Regions from separate parts of the Homo sapiens genome. Here region 2 is linked to region 1. The links come from fine-mapping of genetic effects on gene expression. A gene starts in region 1. The other region holds a variant in brackets. All regions are shown on one strand. Distances are from middle to middle. Region 1 holds the start of HES1 (hes family bHLH transcription factor 1). Region 2 overlaps LOC102724877.

Region 1 (5,370 bases):
TCTTCCAGTCCCTCACATTCCCTAGGCTCCAGACCATGTTCCCTGAATAAAGTCTTCAAGTTCCAGGATCTTGGCCTTTAATACCATGGGTACCTGCATCCTCTCCAGCCCACGACTAAGCACATTCCCAATGCCCCAATCCTACCTATTTTTCAAGGTACACAGGCCAATCCCTCCAGGAAGTTTTCCAAGGTACCCCAACTTAAAAGTAACTTAATTCTCCTGAAACTCCATAGCATTTTACCTCTATCCAGACATACGTCTCTCTTGAACCTACGACTTCCCAGAGGAATTTACTGGGCCATCCGTAGATGTCAGCTGTACACGTTTATATGTATCTCTAGACTGTTAGCTTCCAGAGAGCAATAACGGTCTTACTCACTGCTGTAAACCCAGGTAGACCAGCAATACTGTTATCCATACAAGTATGGTTTCATATTTTGTTTCTGTCCTCCTGATCTCTCAAGCCACCACCTAACTCAGAAAAGAAAGGAAAAATAAAGGAATGTCCAGTCATCAATCAGAAAATCAGCGTCTGTCTGCCCCCGCAGTTTACTGTCAACTTCTAGCAGGCCGCCACTGTATCTCTCACCGTGGAAATCCCAGGGTTTAACACAGTGTCTGACACTGCGCGTGTGTTCCACAATGAAAGAGAGAGGGGGGCTTGCCCAAGGTCACCCAGAGTCAGGAACCACTGAATCTCATCCGGGACGAGATCTGGCGAAATCATTGACAACGTTATCTCAGTGGGGAGCTGGGAGGCCGGAAGGAATGAAGTGTCTGAGAACCGTGCGCCAGGCCTCCGGGACGCGGGAAGGGCTGAGGGGGCGGGAGGCCACATCAAACAAGACGCTGGGCTCCCGGGCTGCCCGGAGCCGCGAGCCGAGCTCCCAGGCGGCGGGAAGGGCGGAGGGGGGGTGGGGGCACGGGGGCCGGCGACCCGGGCAGGCGGGAGGGAGGCGGAGGAGGCGGCCGGCCGGCCCAGGCAGTGCGCGCCGCCCGCCCGGCTCGGCAAATCCCCCAGGGAGGCCGCCGCCAGAGCCCTGGCGCTCCCGGCCCGGCGCCCGCCACGTGGCACCCGGCGGCGGCGGCGGCGACTCCTCCCGGCGCGCGGCCCGGCCAGCAGGCAGCACGCAGCCGCCCGCGCCGCCCGCCTCCTCCCGGGCGCCCGCCGGCGGCCTCCCGGGCGTAGTGAGGGGGAGCGGCCCGGCCGCCCGGGACCCGGGGAAGGGGCGGGCGGCGCGAAGCCGCTTTAACCGCAGTCGCCGAGCGGAGGCAGGAGGCTGACCCGGCCGCTTCCTAAGTGCGGTCAGGCATCCCGTGACCGCGGCGGGCGCCCAGGGCCCCGCGGGGAGAGGGCGGGGGCGAGGAGCAAACTTGGAGGCCCCCACCTCGCCCCCGGGCTGTTGCGAATGCGGCTTTCGGCCGAGTGAAAACCCCAAGCCCGAAAGTGAGGGTGGGGAGGCGGGGGTTGGAAGAATTCCCCACTCTCCACCCCGGGTGTGCGCTCCCCGCCGGGAAGAGCTGACCTTGGCCTGGGGAGGCGGGGGTGGGGAGAGAGGGTAAGCGCCGGGGCTCGGCTCCCAGCCCGCCGCCCCCTCGGATTCCTGGCCCGGCGGGGCCGGAGGAGGGGGCCCCGGACACACACACACACACACCCCCCACACGCAGCGCGCGCCAATGAGCCCGGGCCAGGCGCAGGGGGCGGGGTTTTCCCAGGCTCGAGCACAGCAGCTGCTATTTACCTTCTTGGCTTCTCCCGGGGACCAGGAACCGGCCCCCGCTCTCCGCCGCCCGTCGCCGCCCCCCGCCTCCCTGCCCCCGGGGCGCGCGCACACACACTCACTCACACACGCACGCACACACACATCCTCCCGGCCCGGCCGCAGCCGCGGCGGCAATAAAACATCCTGGCACGTGCTCCGGCTCCAGGCGCGCCCACGCCGGCCGGCTGATGTCAAACTGCAGCTCGGCTGGTGTAGCTCTTAAAGGGCCCGCGGGCGCCGGGGGCCGAGGCCGCCCGCGGGGCGAGGAGGGAGAGGCTGCTTCCTTGCCCGCCACCTCAACGCGCCGCAGAACCTAAAGCCTACGGATGAAAAGGGAAAGGGTGGTGAAGGAGGGCGCGAGTCCCTGAGTCATTGCCCTCGGAGCCCCCCTTGTTCATTTTTTCATTTGAAATACCGTTTCCTTCCACCCAGTTGGAAATTATTCTGATTGTTTCCTGGGGAAGCCCGGGGTCTAAGGCCCCAAATCCAAACGAGGAATTTCTGAAAGACGGGGTGGGGGTGGGATTCAAGAACTACCTTGCTCCGAAAAACCTGCATTTGTGAGGTAGAAGGCAATTTTTCCTTTTTCTGCATGGAAACAGGAAAATTTTTTTGGCCCTTTTCCTTTACCATCTACTTTCACCCTCCTGAATGTAAAGTCTGAGCGGGAACTTTAGATGTGTCGGTAACTCACATTCTTACACCCGTCCCCCCCTCCCCCCGCCCCCTTTTAACCACTGCTGTTTTTTTCTTTATTGTTTATACCTTTAAAAAAAATATGTTTCAAATGAACTTACTACAGTCAAAGCAGCTCTGTTACATATGAGAGAGGGCATAAAGAGCAAAGACCCTGGCTCCAAAAGAAATAGACAAGATCAAGACCAAAGCGGAAAGAAAAAAAAAATCTCTAAACCAAAGCCCAGAGGGAGAGTAGCAAAGGGTTAAAATCCTTTTGATTGACGTTGTAGCCTCCGGTGCCCTGGGCTCAGGCGCGCGCCATTGGCCGCCAGACCTTGTGCCTGGCGGCCAATGGGGGGGCGCGGTCCACGAGCGGTGCCGCGTGTCTCCTCCTCCCATTGGCTGAAAGTTACTGTGGGAAAGAAAGTTTGGGAAGTTTCACACGAGCCGTTCGCGTGCAGTCCCAGATATATATAGAGGCCGCCAGGGCCTAGGGATCACACAGGATCCGGAGCTGGTGCTGATAACAGCGGAATCCCCCGTCTACCTCTCTCCTTGGTCCTGGAACAGCGCTACTGATCACCAAGTAGCCACAAAATATAATAAACCCTCAGCACTTGCTCAGTAGTTTTGTGAAAGTCTCAAGTAAAAGAGACACAAACAAAAAATTCTTTTTCGTGAAGAACTCCAAAAATAAAATTCTCTAGAGATAAAAAAAAAAAAAAAAGGAAAATGCCAGCTGATATAATGGAGAAAAATTCCTCGTCCCCGGTGGCTGCTACCCCAGCCAGTGTCAACACGACACCGGATAAACCAAAGACAGCATCTGAGCACAGAAAGGTAAGGGCGGTACCTGTATCTCTTTGCAGCCCCTCAAAATTAAGTAGGGGTTGGGGGGCTTCTTTCTGTCTTGAAACCCCGGGATGGCAGATTCCATGGGAACACAGAACTCTTTTTTTTATTTGCAGTCATCAAAGCCTATTATGGAGAAAAGACGAAGAGCAAGAATAAATGAAAGTCTGAGCCAGCTGAAAACACTGATTTTGGATGCTCTGAAGAAAGATGTAAGTGGGGAAATGCTGCTCGCTCTTTTAATTAAAAAACAAACACTTTCTCAGCTACTAAGAGTGAAACCCCCCGCCCTGCGGGGTCTGGCACTCGCTGGTACTGCGTTCTCCCAGGCGGGAGGGCCCGGCCTTATTCGCTGGGGTCCAGAGATAATGCTTGCGCTCCGTGGCCGGGAGGAGGGACCCCCAGCACTCTGAAGCAGCTGACACGGGGCTCACTTTCCTTTCTTGCCTACTCTATGCAGAGCTCGCGGCATTCCAAGCTGGAGAAGGCGGACATTCTGGAAATGACAGTGAAGCACCTCCGGAACCTGCAGCGGGCGCAGATGACGGGTGAGGGCGGCTCGCCGCGTCCCCCTGTGCGGGCGTCCCGCTCGCCTCGCGGTGATTTCTTCCAGACTTCCGCCCGTGGTTGTGAGAGGCATTCAGCTACATTTTACTGCCTTGGCTCACTCTTGCGTTCCCACGGTCTGGGGCTTATTTATAGCCACAACTCCAAGTTGTTACTGTTCCGGAAAGGGAGGGAAAGAGGTTGCAGCCGCGAGGGTGGCGGGCGCCGGGTAGGGGCGAAAGGACTTAGGACTGTGGCGGTTTGGAACTGCGTGGAGCCTGGGGGTCACTGGTTTAGCACTCCTTCCCGTTGCAGAAGGGGAAATGAGGCTTGGATGATGGATTGGGAGGCATTGTCCAAGGTCACATCGCGCGCGGGGGTGGGGGTGACAGATCTGGGGCTGAGATAGGTTTAAATGCAGCTACAGGGAATCGGGAAGGAGTGGCTCGGCTTTTGGCAGCAACGCTAGTGTGGAGAGGTGGCTGGTTTTTTCTAAACCCATCTCACCCTCCCTGCCGGAGGCAGTTTCACGGGCGCATGGTCAGGGAGGCGCGCCACAGGGACCTCCCAGGGCGGAGGCAGTGGCCACGGGGCCAGGGCCGTTCGGTGACCCGTCTGTCTCTTTCTGGCCCGCAGCTGCGCTGAGCACAGACCCAAGTGTGCTGGGGAAGTACCGAGCCGGCTTCAGCGAGTGCATGAACGAGGTGACCCGCTTCCTGTCCACGTGCGAGGGCGTTAATACCGAGGTGCGCACTCGGCTGCTCGGCCACCTGGCCAACTGCATGACCCAGATCAATGCCATGACCTACCCCGGGCAGCCGCACCCCGCCTTGCAGGCGCCGCCACCGCCCCCACCGGGACCCGGCGGCCCCCAGCACGCGCCGTTCGCGCCGCCGCCGCCACTCGTGCCCATCCCCGGGGGCGCGGCGCCCCCTCCCGGCGGCGCCCCCTGCAAGCTGGGCAGCCAGGCTGGAGAGGCGGCTAAGGTGTTTGGAGGCTTCCAGGTGGTACCGGCTCCCGATGGCCAGTTTGCTTTCCTCATTCCCAACGGGGCCTTCGCGCACAGCGGCCCTGTCATCCCCGTCTACACCAGCAACAGCGGCACCTCCGTGGGCCCCAACGCAGTGTCACCTTCCAGCGGCCCCTCGCTTACGGCGGACTCCATGTGGAGGCCGTGGCGGAACTGAGGGGGCTCAGGCCACCCCTCCTCCTAAACTCCCCAACCCACCTCTCTTCCCTCCGGACTCTAAACAGGAACTTGAATACTGGGAGAGAAGAGGACTTTTTTGATTAAGTGGTTACTTTGTGTTTTTTTAATTTCTAAGAAGTTACTTTTTGTAGAGAGAGCTGTATTAAGTGACTGACCATGCACTATATTTGTATATATTTTATATGTTCATATTGGATTGCGCCTTTGTATTATAAAAGCTCAGATGACATTTCGTTTTTTACACGAGATTTCTTTTTTATGTGATGCCAAAGATGTTTGAAAATGCTCTTAAAATATCTTCCTTTGGGGAAGTTTATT
Region 2 (5,370 bases), 24 kb before region 1:
TCTCTGGGGGCAATAGACAGACTTTTTCACTTCTTGTATTTACTCCCCAAATGCTTGATTACATAGCTTGTCACCTGTCAGGGGGGCCAGCTAGCTAGTTGCTGGGTTGAGTGGTTAATCCAATGATTTGTATAGCTGGCTCACTAAGGAAATCATAGGTACTCAATATATAGCTACTGAACAATTCAATGAATGATTGAATTAGTTATCATTTAACCTATTGGCTGGGAAGTGCTGAAAGAATTCAAACCCTCTTAATATGCTTCAAGTCCAGCCTGCACTCTCTACCTTCAGGGATCCCTGCTGGGCCACTTGGCCCTTGCTCCTTTCTCCAGCAGAAATCATCCCCCCTGTACCCCTTTCTCCACTCCCACATTCCCTTATGGCCTGGTACAGACCACTGCTGTATTATCTGAGTCATTAGCATAGCCCTGATGCCATTTGTTTATTTGTCTGACTTCCTCACTTGACTCTGAGCTCTCTGCAACAAGGTTTTGCATGTTGTTCAATTTAAAAAATCTGCCTCTAAGGTTATAAGCAGAGCCCAGGACATATCTATTCAACATGACATTTCATAGGGGTTCAGCAAATGTTTGCAAACAAACAAAAAAGGAATGCAGGACAAGGATATTTTGAGTACCAATGAGCCATCCAGCCCTGAGCTAGGTTCAGTCTCTGAAGGCATGAAGAAGGAACCACAGGAGAATTAACATAACTCTCACCACGCTTCATTGCAATCCATCGTTTACTTGTTTCTTTTCACCTGTAGATTATAAATGTCATGAAGACAGGGGCTGTGTCTGTCTTATTCACCTAACTAACCACAGCAACTCACACCATGCCATGGAAGGCACTCAAAAATTTTATGTTGAAGCGATAAGTGGATGGCAAAGGCACCCCAATTTTCAGGATTGATTTCCTCCAACTGTAATTAGTCACTGAGCAAAACAGCCCAGGCTGGAGTGCAGTGGTAGGATTATGGCTCACTGCAGCCTCGACATCCTGGACTTAAGTGATCCTCTCATCACAACCTCTGGAATAGCTGCAACTACAGGTGTGTACCACCACGACTAGTTAATTTATATTTATTTATTTATTTATTTATTTATTTATTTATTTATTTATTGAGAGAGACAGAGATCTCATTTTGTTGCTCAGATTGGTCTCAAACTCCTAGCTTCAAGCAATCCTCCTACCTCGGCCTCCCAAAGAGCTAGGTGTGAGCCACTGTGCCTGGCCCTCTTGCTTTCTTATTGAGAGCCAAGTATAGTTGGAGACTGGTGGAGGTTTTCTCTCCCCAGCAGAAGGTTACCTGGAGACTTTGGCAAGAGCCACAGCAGTTCCTAAAAGGAAAAGAAACCTCAAAGGAGAATGTTAATCTCCCCGATCAGGTAAATGAGCAACAACAGGTAACAAATAATTCACCCCAGTGATCCCTCAGAATTGCATGCCTGTCTTTAAATCTCCTTATACAAGCTGACTTCCTTAGAAAAAGCAGGTAAAATCAGAAAGCAAGAAAGCAAGGAAGGAAGGGAAGGGAAGGGGAAGGGAAGGGAAGGGAAGGGAAGGGAACGGAAGGGAAGGGAAGGGGAGGGAAGGGAAGGGGAGGGAAGGGTACGGAAGGGAAGGGAAGGGAAAAGAGAGAGTCCTTAAATTCTTGAGACAAATTGCAGTGGTAGGATTATGGCTCTATCTTGACATTTTGCAAAACTACATCCGAGCCTATCCTTTGCTCAGCTCTACGTCAGCCAAAGCCTCAGTTATAAATAAATTCACAAATATACGGAACGCTGGGCCTCGCCCCAAGGCCAACGTTCCTCGTTCATGTGTGCATTCACCAGCTCCAGCTCTCCCTGGAAACATCCTTTTCTATGTAACAGCCTAAATCATCCTAAAGAGGACATTCTCCAACATTAGCATACCTAACAATCAACACGGAGATTTCCAGGACCTGTTCCAGAAACACGGATTCAGTAGGTTTAGGGTGGAAGTTTGGAATCTGCCTTTTAACCAACTCCCTGCTATGGACTGAATTGTTTCACCCCAAAATTCATATATTGAAGCCCTCACCCCTAATGTGATGGCATTTGAAGATGGGGCCTTTGGGAGGTCATTATGTTTAGATGAGGTCGTGAGGAAGGGAGCCCCATGATGGATGGGATTAGTGCCCTCATAAGAAGACATGCCAGAGAGCTCTCTCTACTCTCAAGTACCCAGGAAAGGCCATAACAAGACACAGCCAGAAGACAGCTATCTGCAAGCCAGGAAGCGCCCTCACCAAACAGACACGGACCCTGCTAGCACCTTGCTCTTGGGCATTCAGCCTCCAGAATTGGGAGACGATCAATTCCTGCTGTGAAGGTATTTTATTAAGGCAGCCAAAGCTGACTGAGATACTTCCCCGATCACTGTGATGTCCAGTGCCGAGGGCCTATGCTTTGAAAATCAATATTCTAGTCTTAGGCCAAAACTCTCCTCCCTGCTTCCCCAGCCACTCCTTGAGCTTTCTTCTTCCTCATGGCCCTCTCGGCCATCTGGACAGGCTTCTTCCTGGATACAAGTCACATGAATGTCACTGACCTGTGACTTTGTCTTTGTTTCCTGAGTGCATCACACAGTACATGGCCTACGGCAGGCATTCAGAAAATATTGATTTCATGAATGAATAGGTGAATGAATGAGTGAGCAAATGAATGAATTTATATCACATAGAATAATTAACTTCCCTTTTAGTATCTCCCTAATCCTTCCAACTCTAACTTGAGGAAGCTATGACTTGCTTTCAAGATCATTTTCCAGGCCTGG[C/T]GCGGTGGCTCACGCCTGTAATCCCAGCACTTTGGGAGGCTGAGGCAGGTGGATCACCTGAAGTCAGGAGTTCAAGACCAGCCTTGCCAACATGGTGAAACCCTGTCTCTACTTAAAATACAAAAATTTGGCAGGCTTGGTGGCCGGCGCCTGTAATCCCAGCTACTTGGGAGGCTGAGGCAGGAGAATTGCTTGGACCCACAAGGCGGAGGTTGCAGTGAGCTGAGATCACACCACTGCACTCCAGCCTGGGCAACAAGAGCAAAACTCTGTCTGAAAAATGAATAAATAAATAAATAATAGGATTATTTTGCATCCATTCTATTGTTTTGTGGGAATCTTTCACAGTCATTGCCTGGGAATCCAGTGATGAAAAGTGGCCCACAAATACAATCTAATGGAGGCCCTCAGGTTATTCACTAAAGCTCAGAGAAGATCATTTTCCAATCAGAGACATCCACAAGTGGAATGGTGCTAGAATCTTCCCTCCCCTGCAGGAAAGCCCTGGTCAGCCAGGTCAGATGTGGGCAGATGGTTTGCTCTTCTCCACCGAGTACTGAGTGAAGCCTTGGGCTGGAAATCCAGGTAGGGAGGTTAAGGACAAATTTGGAATTAAAACACAATAAGCCCCTTCATTCCTTCCCCATTCACATCCTCCATTCTTAAGGCTGGGAAAAAAAAAAAAAAAAAAGACCCCTTACTTCCTCATGCAAGACTGCCCCCAGGCTTAATCAGAGCCTTAACTGCTGTCTTTGGCTGTGTTGTAAGCACAGTGACAATGATCAGGTTAGGTGTTTAGAACAGTATGATGTCAGTCGGGCTTGTGATGAAAGAGTCGCTGACAGACAGTGCAAGCCAACACCATGAGAACAGCTCAGGCTATGAGGTCATTCAGTCCAACAGGTAGGCAGGTTTGTTTTCTTAGCCCTGACATTCGATGCCCTGCCGGTTATTGAATAACCAGAAATGAGGCGACTCCTACAAATTCCTGGATCTCCATGGGGATGGAGAAGGAGGGGCTGTGCTTCGTCTGCCAAACTGTGGGTTTGATTAAGGGCACCGGAGGAGAAGCCAGAACTGGAAACCTGTCTCTAGGAAGATGGGTAGATGAAAGAAAATGCAAGAAAGATATTCAGGGGCAAGTGGGATCATTTCTGCAGAGGTGAAAAATGATTCTGCATCCCATTTAATCCAATCATGCCCTGCTCCTAGAGAGGAAAGTGAAACACCCTCAGACTGAACACGTGGTCAAACTCAGATGAATGAAGCAGCCAGTTCACAGCAAATTTACTTTTCAAAAGACTGGGAAAGAAGGGAATTGGGGGAACTTTTTTTCTGTTTGTTGAGGAGGGAGATTATTTATTAACTTGTTTATTTTACTACCCAATATATACCACACATAGGACCCCATGTGCAAAGATTTCACAGCTTTAAGAACATGAAATATTTTAATGAAAGACTGTAGTTAACATTTCAAAAATGTAAGTTCAAGCCAAGCCTACTTTCCTTTGAACATTTCATAGAAGTTAAAGGAAACGGGGGTTGTAGGTTTTTTTTTTTTTTTTTTTACGTATTTATTTATTTAGAAACAGAGTCTCACCTTGTCATCCAGGCTGGAGTGCAGTGGTGCCATCTCAGCTCACTGCAGCCTCGACCTCCCAGGCTCAAGCGATCCTCCTGCCTCAGCCCCCCAAGTAGCCGGGACTGTAAGTGTGCACCGGTACACCTGGCTAATTTTTTGTATTTTTCATAGAGACAGGGTTTCGCCGTGTTGCTCATGCTGATCTCCAACTCCTGAGCTCAAGCAATCCGCTCACCTCGGCCTCCCAAAGTGCTGGGATTACAGGTGTGAGGCACTGCACCCAACCTTTAGATTTTGTTTTTAAGCATAATATTGGAGGTGGAGTGATCTATTAGTTTCCCGGGGGGGCTGCCATAACAAAGTACCGTAAATTTGGTGGCTTAAAAGACCAAGAATGGGCCAGGCACGGTGGCTCAGGCCTGTAATCCCAGCACTTTGGGAGGCCGAGGTGGGTGGATCATCTCAGGTCGAGAGTTCGAGAACAACCTGGCCAGCATAGAGAAAACTCGTCTTTACTAAAAATACAAAAATTAGCCGGGTGTAGTGGTGGGTGCCAGTAATCCCAGCCACTTAGGGGGCTAAGGCAGGAGAATTGCTTGAAGCCGGCAGGCGGAGGTTGCAGTGAGCTGAGATCGAGGCATTGCACTCCAGCCTGGGCGACAGAGCGAGACTCGGTCTAAAAAAAAAAAAAAAAAAAGACCAAAAATGTATTAATGTATTGTGTCACAGTTCTGGAGGCCAGCAGTCTAAAATCAAGGAGTCAGCAGGACCATGCTTCCTCCGAACCCTGTAAGGGAAACTCCTTCCTTGCCTCTTCCTAGTCTCTGGTGGTTGCCAGCAATTCACGGCATTCTTCGGCCAGCAGCTATATCACTCCAACTTCTGCCTCCATCGTCACGTGGAGTTCTCACCTTGAGTGTTTCTGTCTCTGTGTCTCATCTATTTTTATGACACCACTCATACTGGATTAAGGACCCACCCTA

The links. PIP is the estimated chance that this variant, and not a neighbour inherited with it, causes the effect.
Region 2: its variant is fine-mapped to the expression of HES1 in whole blood (INTERVAL, PIP 0.98).

The regions. Positions count from the first base shown.
Region 1 is chr3:194,133,205-194,138,574 of GRCh38, forward strand. It overlaps HES1 (hes family bHLH transcription factor 1), which reads left to right and starts at 2,944. Exons shown (of 4, transcript NM_005524.4): 1 at 2,944-3,284; 2 at 3,413-3,508; 3 at 3,757-3,844; 4 at 4,479-5,370. The coding sequence starts at 3,177. The coding sequence ends at 5,029. RefSeq lists silencers at 1,022-1,301, 1,372-1,911, 4,638-4,837 and enhancers at 2,902-4,101, 2,911-3,070, 4,868-5,057.
Region 2 is chr3:194,108,988-194,114,357 of GRCh38, forward strand. All of the region lies in intron 5 of LOC102724877, which reads left to right. Among named protein-coding and RNA genes, the nearest start is that of HES1, 24 kb to the right of the region's middle. The variant C/T (reference allele first, on the strand shown) is at 2,806.